Linked DNA regions of Homo sapiens. The protein of the gene in region 1 purifies or fractionates together with the protein of each later gene. This does not show direct contact. Each region holds a gene or a part of one and is shown on either strand. Other genes may lie near its edges.

What was found.
Region 2: the proteins of ST7 (region 1) and PTH2R purify together in Homo sapiens (co-immunoprecipitation; one large-scale study listed by IntAct). This does not show direct contact.
Region 3: the proteins of ST7 (region 1) and ANXA8 purify together in Homo sapiens (affinity purification with mass spectrometry; one large-scale study listed by BioGRID and IntAct). This does not show direct contact.
Region 4: the proteins of ST7 (region 1) and XRCC1 purify together in Homo sapiens (affinity purification with mass spectrometry; one large-scale study listed by BioGRID and IntAct). This does not show direct contact.

What each region holds. Positions count from the first base shown.
Region 1 is NC_000007.14:117,131,476-117,135,003, forward strand, and holds part of ST7 (suppressor of tumorigenicity 7 protein), read left to right. Parts: intron 1-409; coding exon 410-485; intron 486-2,648; coding exon 2,649-2,717; intron 2,718-3,528. UniProt on the Homo sapiens protein: May act as a tumor suppressor.
Region 2 is NC_000002.12:208,437,766-208,441,293, forward strand, and holds part of PTH2R (parathyroid hormone 2 receptor isoform 1 precursor), read left to right. Parts: coding exon 1-116; intron 117-3,528. UniProt on the Homo sapiens protein: This is a specific receptor for parathyroid hormone. The activity of this receptor is mediated by G proteins which activate adenylyl cyclase. PTH2R may be responsible for PTH effects in a number of physiological systems.
Region 3 is NC_000010.11:47,474,114-47,477,641, reverse strand, and holds part of ANXA8 (annexin A8), read left to right. Parts: exon of another isoform or gene 1-399; intron 400-447; coding exon 448-561; exon of another isoform or gene 562-562; intron 563-1,319; coding exon 1,320-1,410; intron 1,411-1,538; coding exon of another isoform or gene 1,539-1,576; exon of another isoform or gene 1,577-2,051; intron 2,052-2,069; coding exon 2,070-2,149; intron 2,150-2,637; coding exon 2,638-2,697; intron 2,698-3,243; coding exon 3,244-3,337; intron 3,338-3,528. UniProt on the Homo sapiens protein: This protein is an anticoagulant protein that acts as an indirect inhibitor of the thromboplastin-specific complex, which is involved in the blood coagulation cascade.
Region 4 is NC_000019.10:43,565,526-43,569,053, reverse strand, and holds part of XRCC1 (DNA repair protein XRCC1), read left to right. Parts: intron 1-3,528. UniProt on the Homo sapiens protein: Scaffold protein involved in DNA single-strand break repair by mediating the assembly of DNA break repair protein complexes. Negatively regulates ADP-ribosyltransferase activity of PARP1 during base-excision repair in order to prevent excessive PARP1 activity.

The DNA.
Region 1 (3,528 bases):
AACACCAAGAGTCTGTGTTAAGTGCTTCGGAAAATGACCAATTATGTTGTATCTAAGTGAATGAAAAGGTTGGTAGCAATGTCATCTCAAAATGCATAAAATATATTCTCCAAGAACAAATGACATTAATGTGCAAAAGACACGCAAAATCTCTGTTAGAGTGCCTTTTCTTGATTTCCTTAGCCTGTAGTTTTGTGAGCACAAAAAAGGTTTGCTATCAGCAGTTGAAATACTGTGGAATAGCACATTAATACACTAATATGACTTTGGAGATTTTGGCCAACCCTCTTAGCAATGAAATATGTTCTTGTAATTTAAGCTGACACTCCTAATTTAGCTCTTGTCCTCTACTGAGTCTACCTAATTATATGTATGGATTGACTTGGTGTTTTCTCTTTTTCTTAAATAGTAATGCAGAAAGCCTGGAGAGAGAGAAACCCCCAAGCTAGGATTTCTGCAGCTCATGAAGCCTTGGAGATAAATGAGTAAGTGGGGGAAAATCTTGCTGTTAAAAAGGAAATCTCATCCTTTGCTGAATATATTCAGTTGCCATTGATAGGATACTTAAATTAAACTGCATTTGAACTGGAGGATTATTTGGGGAGTTATTACTCTATTTAAAAAAGTTTTTTTTTTAAATGAAGGACAGCCACCATGTGGAGGTGGTTTTAGTCATTTTATGAATTCAATGGCTTTGCTGTGATCCTAAATTAATTTCTTGAAGGGCTATCCCTAGGATATTGTGAGGATATAAAATAAATACAATTCTTTACATATCTAAAACATTCTGACAGGGAAAATTTTCCAGATGTAGAATGCTCATCTGCACTAGAACATTTTCTAGTAGAACTTCTGCTAGTGGGGAAAACATGATAACAACATAAGGTTTAAAAAAAAAATTTTAGAAAATACTTCAAGATTAAGACAAAGATAAGAGGAAATGCTGTCTTGAGTGTTGTTAAACATTCTGTGGGTTACCAAGGAAGGCTGGGAAATCTCTTCTGGAGATCTCAGAAAATGAGAAAGATTCTTAAAGTTGGAGTCATAAAAACTCAGGGTTGGCAGAGACCTTAAAGGTCACTTAGCTGAACCACCCATCTGGTGCTTGAATCACCTCAACACTATCCTTGCCAAGTGGTCATTGTTAAACTATTTTATGATTTTTCTGAAGAAGGTTACAGAATCTTCTTCAGAGATCTTAGGGAAAAAAAAAAAAGATTGTCGTGAGAGTTGAAAATCCTGCCATTGTAACCAGTTGATCTACGGTTTCTGATTCTGTCATGCAACATATTTATTTTCCAGTTTCTTGTCATCTACAAATTCGATATGCCTGCCTTCTGTGTGTCATCCATATTTCTGAGAAAAATATGAAGGCCAGGAATAGAGCCCTGTGACATGACATAGAAACTACCCTCCAGGTTCATGTCTTCATGAATCACCATCTTTTGTATTGTTCACTCAATTACTAAGCCACCCAGTTACACTGTGACTCAGCTCATATTTCTCCATTTGGATCTTAAGAATGCCAATCGTAGCTGCGGATCTTAAATTTATAGTAAATCTATTACAGTAAATTAAGCTAGCACAATCTGATTTATTTATTCTTAGTGAATATAAGCTGGCTTCTAGTCGTCACTACTTTCTTTTTAAAGTGCTTGGAGACCATTCCTTTAATAATCCATTAGAATATCTTTCCAAATCACTGTGTTCTGTAGTTTGGGAAGTCTGCCTTCTTCCCCTTTTTGAAAATTTATGCTACATTTATCATCTCATCTTCTAGCACCTCTCCATTCTTTGTGATTCCTCAACTATCCACAGAGAGCAATTCCATGGCCTGCCTACAAGGTCTTTCGGTTTCCTGGGATTTGCCCATCCAGTCCAGTAATTCATTTAGAATGGATCAATTATTTGCTATCTTACATCTTTTTACCCATTTTAGAGTTTAATTTCTTCTCCCTTTTTCAGTCTGACAGTCATTCTCCTTGATAGAGAAGCCAGGAACAAAATAGGAGGGAGAGAGTTTTGCTTTTTCTTTATTATCTACTGCTTTTAACAATAAACCTTCCTTGTTTTGATGTTATTATGTTGTTTGTCTTTTTTTTTTACTTATTTGCCTTTGTGACATGGGGACGGTGATAGGGCCTTAAATATAATTTTAAAATAGGGAATAAATGGTTGTCTTTAGTATTTTATTTTGTTTTATTATTATTATTATTATTGTTATTTTTGCAAGCTTCAGCTAATTTGGAATTGTAGCTCTCCTGACATTATTCTTATAAGCTCATTCCACTCTCTTATAGACCATCATTACATGCCCTCTTTCCATCTTTTAAAATATGTCCTTTAAAAATCTGACCTGGGAGAAATCTCTGTGAAGCCGTGTTGGTTACTTAAGTGCCACCCCTCTTTTCTTCCTGAGAGGATCATTTGTGATTGCAGTTACAGTTGAACATTTGGAAGCTGCTCAACCCTCTTAAACCATTTTTCCTTCTGAATCTCATGCCATTGAATCATGCCTCTTTTCTTTGAATTTTTTGAAGTCCACCTTCCCCTCTTTGATTACCCTGAACTCCGAAATGACATAGTGACTCTCTCTGAATGTTCCTATCAATTTTCATTTTACCAACTATTTTTTTCTTCTTGGTCAGAATTAGGTCCAGAGTTGAAGTTCCCCTAATTGCTTCCTCTACCATCTGGGAGATAAAATTGTTACCAAAGTAAGTCAAGAACCTGTTGGGTGCCCTACTTCTAACCAAATGAGACTTCTAGTGGATATCTGGATGGTTGACACCCCCATCACCACACTTTCTTGCTTCTGTATGTGTATTGTGTTGTGACAAGGATGCATCATCTATATCTTCCATCGAGCTGAGCAGTCTGTTCTGTACTCCCCAACCATTAGCACTTCTATTGCTCTCTCCTTTTTCCTTCACTCACAAGCTCTTAGCATGTTTCTATCCCAAACTCATGCGTTTCCACATAGATGTATGTTTCTTGGCCAGTAGTGCTACTCTGCCTCTCCTCCTAAGAATACCATTTGAAATATAAATAAGCAAAGCAAGCAAGCTAGCCCCAACCATTCTTGGGTTCCCAGCCCAACAACTACAATCTTATAGCTAATTCCTCTGATACTGTATCTACCACTCAGTATTACAATCTCAATTTTCACTTCATTACCCTTGCCTCATATTTATATGTTGGCATCTGAAGCCTTAAGCATTTCTTCTGATGCCTGTCCCAGTTATTTTCTCCAGTGAATCACTTGTATAGTTTCAGCATCATTATGGTTCTTTCCAAGTCATGGATGCTGCCATCTGTAGAAATTGGTTTTATAGCTGTTTTTCTGGGCATTTTTCTCCCTACCTCACCACATTGTTTAAAGCCCCATTGATGGTTCCTGCCTGAAATTAGAGAGACTGGCTAAAGACCTTACAGACCCTTCCTAAGGCTAAGATTAACTAGTAGCCCCAGCCCTTACATTAGCTGTGAAGTTCAGCCTCCTTTTCCTAGCTGGCTATTGCAGTTTGT
Region 2 (3,528 bases), on another chromosome or scaffold:
CTTTCCGACACTGTAACCCCAATGGAACATGGGATTTTATGCACAGCTTAAATAAAACATGGGCCAATTATTCAGACTGCCTTCGCTTTCTGCAGCCAGATATCAGCATAGGAAAGGTAATGGAATTTCTCTATTTGTGAATTCCTAAGGGAAAGCAGAATAATATTTTAATGCAATTCTCAATTGCCAGCCATTATGTATAAAAACCCTCTTATTCCACGACACAAGGATCATAAAAGATAAAAGCAATGTTGCAATCTTTTCAGATGCATATCAATCATTCTGGTATTTTCTATAGCCTAGAGCTACCTGGCTGAGATACATACATCCATACTTATACCTGTGTGTGTGTTATGTTTATTATGTTAGATTACATTGTTTACTTGCATTATATTATGCTATATTATGAATAAAAATCCCAATAGGTGGTTAGTAACATGATTCATGATTTCTTCTTAGTTACCTATGAATGGCTACATCTCATCTGTATATTCCAGAAGGACCTTTGCATTTTAGAGGTGTATTTTCCACCTCATAAGATTTACCAATAGATGATCTCATTAGCGTATAAAAGATTAGAGTTTTAGGATTAAAGGGGAGCAAGGGGCATCATATAAATCTTCCAGCACAATATATTAATTTCAGAGATGTGAGTCAACTGAGAACCCGAGATTAGGTGTTGGTCAAAGTGACATAGCTCAGTGGCAAGAGGGTTTAATGTAGAGCCCTTATGTCCCAATTTCACATCAGTGCTGTTTCCAATATAGAAATCATATATAAACTTTGGGATATTCTAGAGAGTTGCTTTTAAGTTATAAAAGTTGGTTTAAAAGTCATGTTTAAATTTATATCACTTAGACCTCGTGAGTAAAAATGCATGATGATATATGCATATGATGCTAAGAGTTAATGTGATAAATTAGCTTTATGAAAACCCTGAGAATAGTCCATCACACATAAACTCTTCGAATTTTTGACATATTTCTTTATGTCTGGTGATGTTTTGGGGAGGTGGGGGGAGAACAGCAGCAAGAGAAGTAGTGAGTTGAAGGTTTCTTTGATTTTGCATTAATAGAACTTCCTGTCTTAACTTTCTTCCTTAATGAGTTCTTTAGGAATTGGCAGAAAGACTTTCAGTTATCTGTTTAATTGTTGAAAAGCTTCTTAGATAAAATAAGTCAATATGAGGAGATTGTTAGGTACTCTACAATGGAACTAACATAAGTAACATCAACATTCAGTTAAGCTAAAATGCTTCAAAAGAATTTCAGTCTCATTGATAGAAACAAACATTCACTGATACTTAGTGTACTCTGTGATTATCTTCATTTTTGCATTACATGATGAAAAATGCAAACCTTTCAGAGCTGTTAATGGCCATTAAATTAAATCATGGTTTTATTTATATTGAACTCTAATCTTATAACCATTTTCTGTGATTACTGTGTATTTTAAGAATAAAAATAACTAAAGATGGTTGATGTACTCAATATATATACTAGTTTATGTAAAATGATTTAAAAGTTAATAGAAAATTTGAAGAATTGTGTTAGTATAATTTAATCTCCTTAATTAAAAACACAAAAAATGTTTTCTATTGTTTGCAACCTTTAAGTAATAATTTGGAAAAACCCAAGAAAACAAAATATGTCTAATAAGAAAACTAGATATCTCCTGAAGGTTTGACACACAGTAGGGCAAAATGATATTACTTATTTGTGAGATATAAATTATTAATAGTTAATAAAATTTTTTTATAAGGAAGGAAAGGCAAAAAACTAAAAAAGTGTAAATTTAGAATAAATGCCACATTTTTATCAGGAAAATAAGATATTTTTGAGCACTATTTTTTTCTCTAAATTTTTATATAATTGGCTTGGCAAAATGAGGTAATTATTTTAGTTAAAAAAAGGGAAGGAATTCTAATGATGTCACAAGATTATTAAATTTTTTAGAGTGTGATATTTAAAACAGTAGCATACTGTAGAAACTACCATATAATACATCTCCTATCCAAAGGCTAGATGTACTTTTGGAAAGCCATTTAGCAGTATATATTTAAAAACTTCAAAGGAATAATATTTTTTGATCTTATAAATTTACTTCTAAAATCAAGCATAAGGATTTAGAATGGGGGAACTGAATGGAAAAAATGTTCATTGAACAAATAATTATAATGAATGTTTCAACGAGTTTAAATTTCTAATGAAGAACTGGTTAAATAAGCGCAAATATATGCATATAAATTTTATAAAGAGTTTGCAGCCTTGGGCAATTATTTTGTCACACAAAAAATTCAGGAATAAACTTGTATATAAATTGAGAATGCAGATGCTTAAAATAATAGGCAATGCTTCACAGAAATAGAATGAAATGAAATAGATGAAGTACTAGCTGGGCATAGTGGCCTGTGTCTGTAGTTGCAGCTACTTGGGAGGCTGGGGTGGGAGTTCAAGATCAGCCTGGGCAACATAGGGAGATGCCATCTCTTAAAGTCATAACAATAACAACTTCAAGAAATATGTGAAGTACATGAAGTACTAACAGTGTTTCTTTCTGATTGGTTAGAATTTGTAAGATTTTTTTTCTCCTCTCTTTTATGTTTTACACATTATTCAAATATTTTCTATGAAAAGTTTTACTATTTTATTAAGAGAAAATAATAAGTAATTAATATTTTTTTTAAAAGAAACAAGAGGCAAAGTCTTCCTGCTTCCAGTCAGATTGTAGGCAGTCGCAACAATAAGTTGGCTTAGATGCAAAATTAATAATTTGTAAACATGAGTTGAGGATGCCAAGAAATCTAAATGAACTAAATTCCAGAAATGGGCAAGCCCTTCCTATGAGAGAAGAGACCCATGGCTGCGTGTATCCCTAGGACCACAGTAGAAGGGGAGAAAACAGGCTATTGAAGGGGACAAAGAGAAAAGAGACAAGCTTTTATACCAATAGCAGACAAGGGCTAGCATAAAGAGTTAGAATCCCAAGGAGTAAGCCCTAGTCTTAGTAAGCTATAATCCACCAGGCAATTCTTTGCCGTGAGGTCTTCACCGAGTGCATGGGGGAAGTATGCCAAAGGCTGGGGCAGGCAGAGGGCTCAGAGAAATTCCTTGAGATGTGCACAGGGCTCTCACAGAGTGAAAGGCAGCAGTTGGCTGAAGGCATGGATCAGGACAGAGGAGCTGAGAGGCATCCCTTGAGGCACAGGGGGCCCTCACTAACTGCATGACTGATGCAGCCCACAGGCCAGGAGAAGGGCAGGGAAGCTGAGACAAATCCCCTAGAGATGCATAGTTCCCAGTGAGCACAAGGCAGCAGCCAATTGCAAGACCAGGCCCCTGAACTTCTGAGTAACCACCTTCAAGTTGGGGTTCCCACGAACCCCTCTTTAGGCTTGATTAATTGCTAGAACAGCTCACATAACTCAGAGAAACACTTACGTTTCCTATATATTATTATAAAGGATATTTTAAAGGATACAAATAAACAGCCAGGTGAAGAGACATATAGGGCGAAGTCTGGAAGAGT
Region 3 (3,528 bases), on another chromosome or scaffold:
CCTGGTGGCTCCTCGTAGCAACATGTGACCTTAGAAGGAGGCACATGTGAGACGAAGTCTTTAATTCAGGCATGCATTCATTCATTGAGTGCCAAGTGACAGGTATTTTATGGTGATGCCATACTCAGAGCTTGCAGTCTAGCTAGCAATACCAATTTCATTTTACTGAGAGCTTATGATGTGCCCAGCACTGCACTGAATGCTGAATTGAGTCACACACAACCCCCTAAGCAACGGGATGAAGCAGGAGCACGTTTCTCTCCGTGTAACCGGTAAAGATACTGATGCTAAGAGAAGCTAAGGAGCTGGCCCAAGAAACCCAGCCAGCACGTGGCAAGGCCCACGCAGAATCCAGCCCAAGCCCCTGGACCCAGCCACCACTCCGCTGCCTGCACTCAGGTGGGCCTGGCTTATGACAAATATCACCTTTCCCTGTTCCCGCATTAGGACCTCACTGAGACCTTGAAGTCTGAGCTCAGTGGCAAGTTTGAGAGGCTCATTGTGGCCCTTATGTACCCGCCATACAGATACGAAGCCAAGGAGCTGCATGACGCCATGAAGGTAACCAGGCAGACAGGGCAGGGGAGTGGCAGGGGTGCTCACATGACTGGGTAGGGGCAATGCGGGGACCGGGAACCTACAGCCCAGAGCTCCCCTTGAGCCACTGTTTGGAATGGCCATATGGGCCATAACTGGGCCCAGTGAGCAGGCAGCCTGCTGCTCAGACTGCACCCAACACCTGGAGTCACTGGTGCCTGATTGACACGTTGAGTGGCCGTGATGAAGCCAAAATCAGTACTTCTCAGAACCTCACGAGCTCAGGTGTACAGTGGTATTGGAAACCCACCTCTACAGTCCCAGGCACAGCCCCTTGGGTTTCCCTTTACCTCTCACTACTCTTTGCTTTTGCAGATTAATAAGGATGGGGACCCAGTAACTATAGTCATTTTGTTTGGAAAGACACTTGCTGCATGGGCACTGCCAGGCATTTTACACCCACGCTCCCTAATCTATCTTTGGCGCAGGGGAGGCTTCTTATTCCTGTTTATGGATCGGGATGCTTAGGCTCCAGGACATGGAGCAGCCTGTCTGAGACCACCCAGCTAAGGAGGGAGAGCTGAGACAGGGCTTCCCCGTCACAGCACTTGCCCTCAATGTTCATCACTGAAGCATGTGATTTTCTCATCACATCCTCCCACTTCAAGTGGGGCAGGGCAGTGAGGTCCTTCCTGAGGCTCAGGCATCTTGAGAAAAGAAGGTGTGGACAGAGCAGAAGGTCATGGCAGAGCACTCCAGCAGGCAGAGGTTTCTGTCCACAGGGCTTAGGAACCAAGGAGGGTGTCATCATTGAGATCCTGGCCTCTCGGACCAAGAACCAGCTGCGGGAGATAATGAAGGCGTATGAGGAAGGTAAGGGGTGGCACAGATGGAGGGGCTCAGGAGTGGCCACAAGCTTTGGCAGCCTGGCAGGGAACAAGGATCAAGAATTAACCTGGGCCACACTAGAAAGGACCCTTTGGGGACTTTTTTACCCACAGGTGCTGAGCACCTACCGTATGCCAAGATCTGTGCCTGATGGTGACACTGAACATGATTCAGACTTGATCTGTAAGCTCACCAGCTCCTCTTACAGGGGAGAGAGGCCTGTGACCAACTAAAATCTCTGCCCTTGAGGACTGTGGTAGTAGGGGGTGTGGACCCCAGGCTAGCAGAGGCCAGTCAGTCCTCCACATCATGTACCTAGTGGGGAGTTTTCCTGGAGGCTTTGGCTTTGCCAAGCCTTGAGATGAAATGGAGCTTGGTTGGCAGCCCCTAGCCTGGCTCTCTGACCTGGTCCATCTTGTGCTTTGAGCTTGGTTGGGTACGCATGTCGCTTCTAGTTGTGAAGCACCACCCAGGCGACAGCCACTTGGACACCCGGGCATTGCATCCATGCCCTGTGCCAAGGACTTTCTTTCCTAGAAGGCTTTAATAAGGAGAAGTATGGGGAACAGGGCTGGAAGGAGGAAAGCAGGCCCCGGGTAGGCTGTGGGCCTCTGCTTGTGCCTCATGGTCCTGTTTCCCTGCAGACTATGGGTCCAGCCTGGAGGAGGACATCCAAGCAGACACAAGTGGCTACCTGGAGAGGATCCTGGTGTGCCTCCTGCAGGTGTCACAGCCTAGGCTCTTGGGAGTGCCTTGGTTTGGGAGTCCCAACAGCTCCACCCCAGGGAGCAGCCCTTGAATAGCGCCACAAGAGTCAGGGTAGGGGCATGGGATAGCCCAGCAGCCAGGGCTCATTGGGTGTGTCTCAGCATGGTTAGAGGGTCCCAACTGCAGAGCCCCCACACCTGTCCTTACTCAGCCATGTGAGAGCATCCTGGAAGCGGGAGGAGAGCAGGTCCTTCGTGCAGGCCTCATGCCAGGCACTTTGCTTACCTTAGCTCACTGAATCCGCCAAGCCTTATGAGGCAGTCCTTACCACCCCCATTGTACAAATGAGGAAACCAAGGGCTGAAGAGAATAACTGGCTTGTCGAAGTTTCCACAGCCAAAGAGCAGCAGAGCCATGCCTGCCCTCCAAGCCCAGGATCCCCCCTGTGCCCTTAATGCTCTGGTCAGCTGGCCTGCCTTACAGAGCCACCTCCTCTGTTCCTAGGGCAGCAGGGATGATGTGAGCAGCTTTGTGGACCCAGGACTGGCCCTCCAAGACGCACAGGTGAGGCTGCGCCCAGCCGGCCATGTGGCCCCACCCCCTGCCATCTGGACTCCGGCTCCTCTGCCCACGGGGGCTTTCTCTGACACTGGGCTGGGACCCACCCAGCTCAGCTCCCTATAGGCCTTTGTCCTGTGGTGTCTGGGGAGGAGAGTGAGGGTGTTGGGAGACTCGGGAGGAAGGAGTGTGACTTGGGGGTGGGGGAGCACTAAAGCTCTGTCCTGGCAGGAACAGCCCATGAACCCGGGGGCGCTAGGCCCCAGTGCTGGACACAGGTGTCCGGGTCTCTGTAGGTCTGCCTGCTGGCAGAGGGAAGTCTGGGGACCAGGCAGTTCCTAGAGCAGCTTGTGGCCCAGGATAGAGAAAATATTCTAAGCCAGAGCTGCTAGAGAAAGGGGAGCTCCCTGTCAGAGACGACCAAGCAGGGGAGCATGCTGGCCTGGCAGAGTGGACAGGGCCAGGCCATGGCCACAGCTCTGGGACTCTGGGGCTCAGTCCCTCACCTCCCTGGTCTCCCTCACTGGCTTATTGTGGGTGTCCCAATGCTAGGATCTGTATGCGGCAGGCGAGAAGATTCGTGGGACTGATGAGATGAAATTCATCACCATCCTGTGCACGCGCAGTGCCACTCACCTGCTGAGAGGTACCAGGGAGGGAGGGGCTGGGGCCGGGGCCACAGGGGGTGTCCTGGCCATGAGCCTCTCCCTCGTGCTTCTGCCTTGTCAAGTCTAGAGTTAGGGAGAGAGCCAGGGAGCCCAGGACTGTTTCCCCAGCCACCAGTGGGAGGTCAGGGCGGCAAATTGATGTGCGATCTCTGATCCGAGACACTGAGGG
Region 4 (3,528 bases), on another chromosome or scaffold:
CCCCAACTTGGCCTCCTGAGTAGCTAGGACTATAGGTGCACACCACCACACCCAACTAATTTTTTTTTTTTTTTTTAAGCTTTTTGGAGGCAGCTTCCTGAGTAGCTGGGATTACAGGGATTACAGACAGAGCCACAAAGACCTGGCCATTGGGGTTTTATTATATTTGCTTTCTGAATGGGTATTATATGCATATAGTGCAAAATTCAAAAGGTGCAAAAGGGTATACACTAAAAAGAAAATCTCCCCTCACCCTTTCCATCCCTCCCTGCTCCCTCCCCAACTCCTGCTCCCTCCCCAACTCCTGCTCCCTCATTCTTCTCTCCTGATGCAACCACCATTAGCAGTTTTTTTGGGTGGTCTTCCTGGGTCATTCTGTACACATACAAGCATATATACCTACCGCCTCCATCCCTTTTTAAAAAATTCATAGTATATACACTGTTCCCTTGTGTGTTTTTTTTCAAGTAACAGTGTATTTTGGAGATGCACACTGCATGAAGTTCTACCTTATTTATTTATTTATTTATTTACTTACTTACTTACTTACTTACTTTGAGACAGAATCTCGCTCTGTCACTCAGGCTGGAGTGTAGTAGTGCGATCGTGGCTCACTGCAACCTCCCCCTCCCAGCTTCAAGTGATTCTCCTGCCTCAATCTCCCTAGTAGCTGGGATTACGGGCACATGCCACCAGGCTTGGCTAATTTTTGTATTTTTGGTAGAGATGGGGTTTCCCCATGTTAGCCAGGCTGGTCTTGAATTCCTGACCTCAAGTGATCCTCCTGCCTTGGCCTCCCAAAGTGTTGGGATTACAGGCGTCAGCCACGCCGTGCGCAGCCTACCTTATTCTTTTAAATGATGCATACAATTGCATTTCATGGCCGGGCGCGGTGGCTCACGCCTGTAATCCCAGCACTTTGGGAGGCTGAGGCAGGTGGATCACGAGGTCAGGTGTTCAAGACCAGCCTGGCCAAGATGGTGGAACCCTGTCTCTACTAAAAATATAAAAATTAGCCAGGTGCAGTGGTGGGCACCTGTAATCCCAGCTACCTGGGAGGCTGAGGCAGGAGAATTGTTTGAACCCGGGAGGCGGAGGTTGCAGAGAGCCGAGATCGTGCCACTGTACTCTAGCCTGGGTGACAGAGCAAGACTCTGTCTCAAAAAAAAAAAAAAAAGAAAAGATTGCATTTCATGGATGTGAAACAGTTTTTTAGCAATATATCTCAGGAACTTTGCCTTCCTGTGCCATGTTTGTTTCAGGAACAGTTCATATCAGAACTGTGTCTCCCTGAGAAAGCTGCATGCACACGAACCCAGGCCATCGGTGATAGTCATCTTGTGCTCTTATCCTCACAGCTGATACATACTGAGCACTCATCTCTTATTTTGAGAAAAATTCACATAAAATTTACTGTTTTAACCATTTAAAGTGCACATTTCAGCCAGATGCGGTAGCTCACACCTGTAATCCCAGCACTTTGGGAGGCCAAGGCGGGTGGATTGCTTGAGGTCAGGGATTCGAGACTAGGCTGGCCAACATGGTGAAACCCCATCTCTACTGAAAATACAAAAATTAGCCGGGGGTGGTGGTGCGTGCCTGTAGTCCCAGCTATTCGGGAGGCTGAGGCAAGAGAATCACTTGAACTGGAAGGCAGAGTTTGCAGTGAGCTGAGATTGCACCACTGCACTCCAGCCTGGGCAACAGAGTGAGACTCCGTCTCAACAAAAAACATAAATAAATAAATAAATAAAGTGCACATTTCAGGGTTTTTTTTTTTTTTTTAGCATATTGACAATGTTCTTCAACCATCTCCATTCTCTAATTCAGAATATTTTCATCACTCCAAAAAGAAACCACATAACCATTAAACAGTCACTTCTTATTCTCTCCCCAATGTTGCCCTTGGCAACCACTGATCTACTTTCTGCTTCTCTGGATTTGCGTATTCTGGACTTATAAATGTATACGTGGTCTTTTACACTTAACCTTGTTACACTTTGCATAATGTTTCTGAGGTTCATCCATGTTGTAGCATATATCACAACTTCAGTTTTTTAAATAACTGGATGATATTCCATAAATATACTGTACAATGTTTATCTATTCATCAACTGATGGACATTTATTGGGTTGTTACCATGTATATATAAACCTTTTTTTTTTTTTTTTTTTGAGATTGAGTCTTGCTCTGTTGCCCAGGCTGGAATGCAGTGGTGCAATCTCGGCTCACTGCAACCTCTGCTTCCCAGGTTCAAGTGATTCTCGTGCCTCAGTCTCCTGAGTAGCTGGGACTACAGGCGCATGCCACCATGCCCAACTAATTTTTCTGTTTTTAGTAGAGACGGGGTTTCGCCGTGTTGCCCAGGTTGGTCTTGAACTCCTGGGCTCAAGAAATCCACCTGCCTTGGCCTCCCAAAGTGTTGGGATTACAGGCGTGAGCCACCACCCCAGCCTCCATGTATAAACATTTTTATCAGATTCTTAAAAAGTATTTATTTACTTTTTTTTTTTTTTTTTTTGAGACAGAGTCTTGCTCTGCCACCCAGGCTGGAATGCAGTGGCATGATCTTGGCTCACTGCAACCTCCGCCTCCTGGGTTCAAGCAATTCTCTGCCTCAGCCTCCCGAGTAGCTGGGATTACAGGCGCCTGCCACCATGCCTGGTTAATTTTTGTATTTTTACTAGAGACGGGGTTTCACCCTCTTGGCCAGCCTGGTCTTGAACTCTCCTGACCTTGTGATCTGCCAACCTCTGCCTCCCGAAGTGCTAGGATTACAGGCCTGAGCCACCGTGCCTGGCCACTTTTTTTTTTTTTTAGATGGAGTCTCACTCTGTCACCCAGGCTGGAGTGCAGTGGCATGATTTCGGTTCGCTGCAACTTCTGCCTCCCAGGTTCAAGTGATTCTCTGGCCTCAGCCTCCTGTGTAGCTGGGATTACAGGTGCACGCCACCAAGTCTGGCTAATTTTTATATTTTTAGTAGAGACAGGGTTTCACCATATTGGTCATGCTGGTCTTGAACTCCTGGCCTCAAGTGATCTGCCTGCCTTGGCCTCCCAAAGTGCTGAGATTACAGGTGTGAGCCACTGTGCCCAGCCTGTTGTTTTCTCTCTTGAGACAGAGTCTCACTTTATCACCCAGGCTGGGGTGTAGTGGCTCGTCTCAACTCACTGCAACCTCCACCTCCCAGGTTCAAGTAATTCTTGTGCCTTAGCCTCCTGAGTAGCTGGGATTATTGAGGTGCGTGTCACCACACCCAGCTAACTTTTTTTATTTTTGGTAGAGACAGGGTTTTGCTATGTTGGCCAGGCTGGTCTCGAACTCCTGGCCTCAAGTGATTCTCCCGCCTCCACCTCCCACGGTGCTGGGATTACAGGCGTGAGCCAGTGCTCCTAGCCAGGACTTTTTTTATATACAAAGAAGAAATGTCAGGGAGTGCCTGTTTAAAGTAGAAATAGTTATATATGCAGTAGGAATTGTTCATTTAAAATACAAGCATCTCCATCCTACCACATTTAGGAGCTAT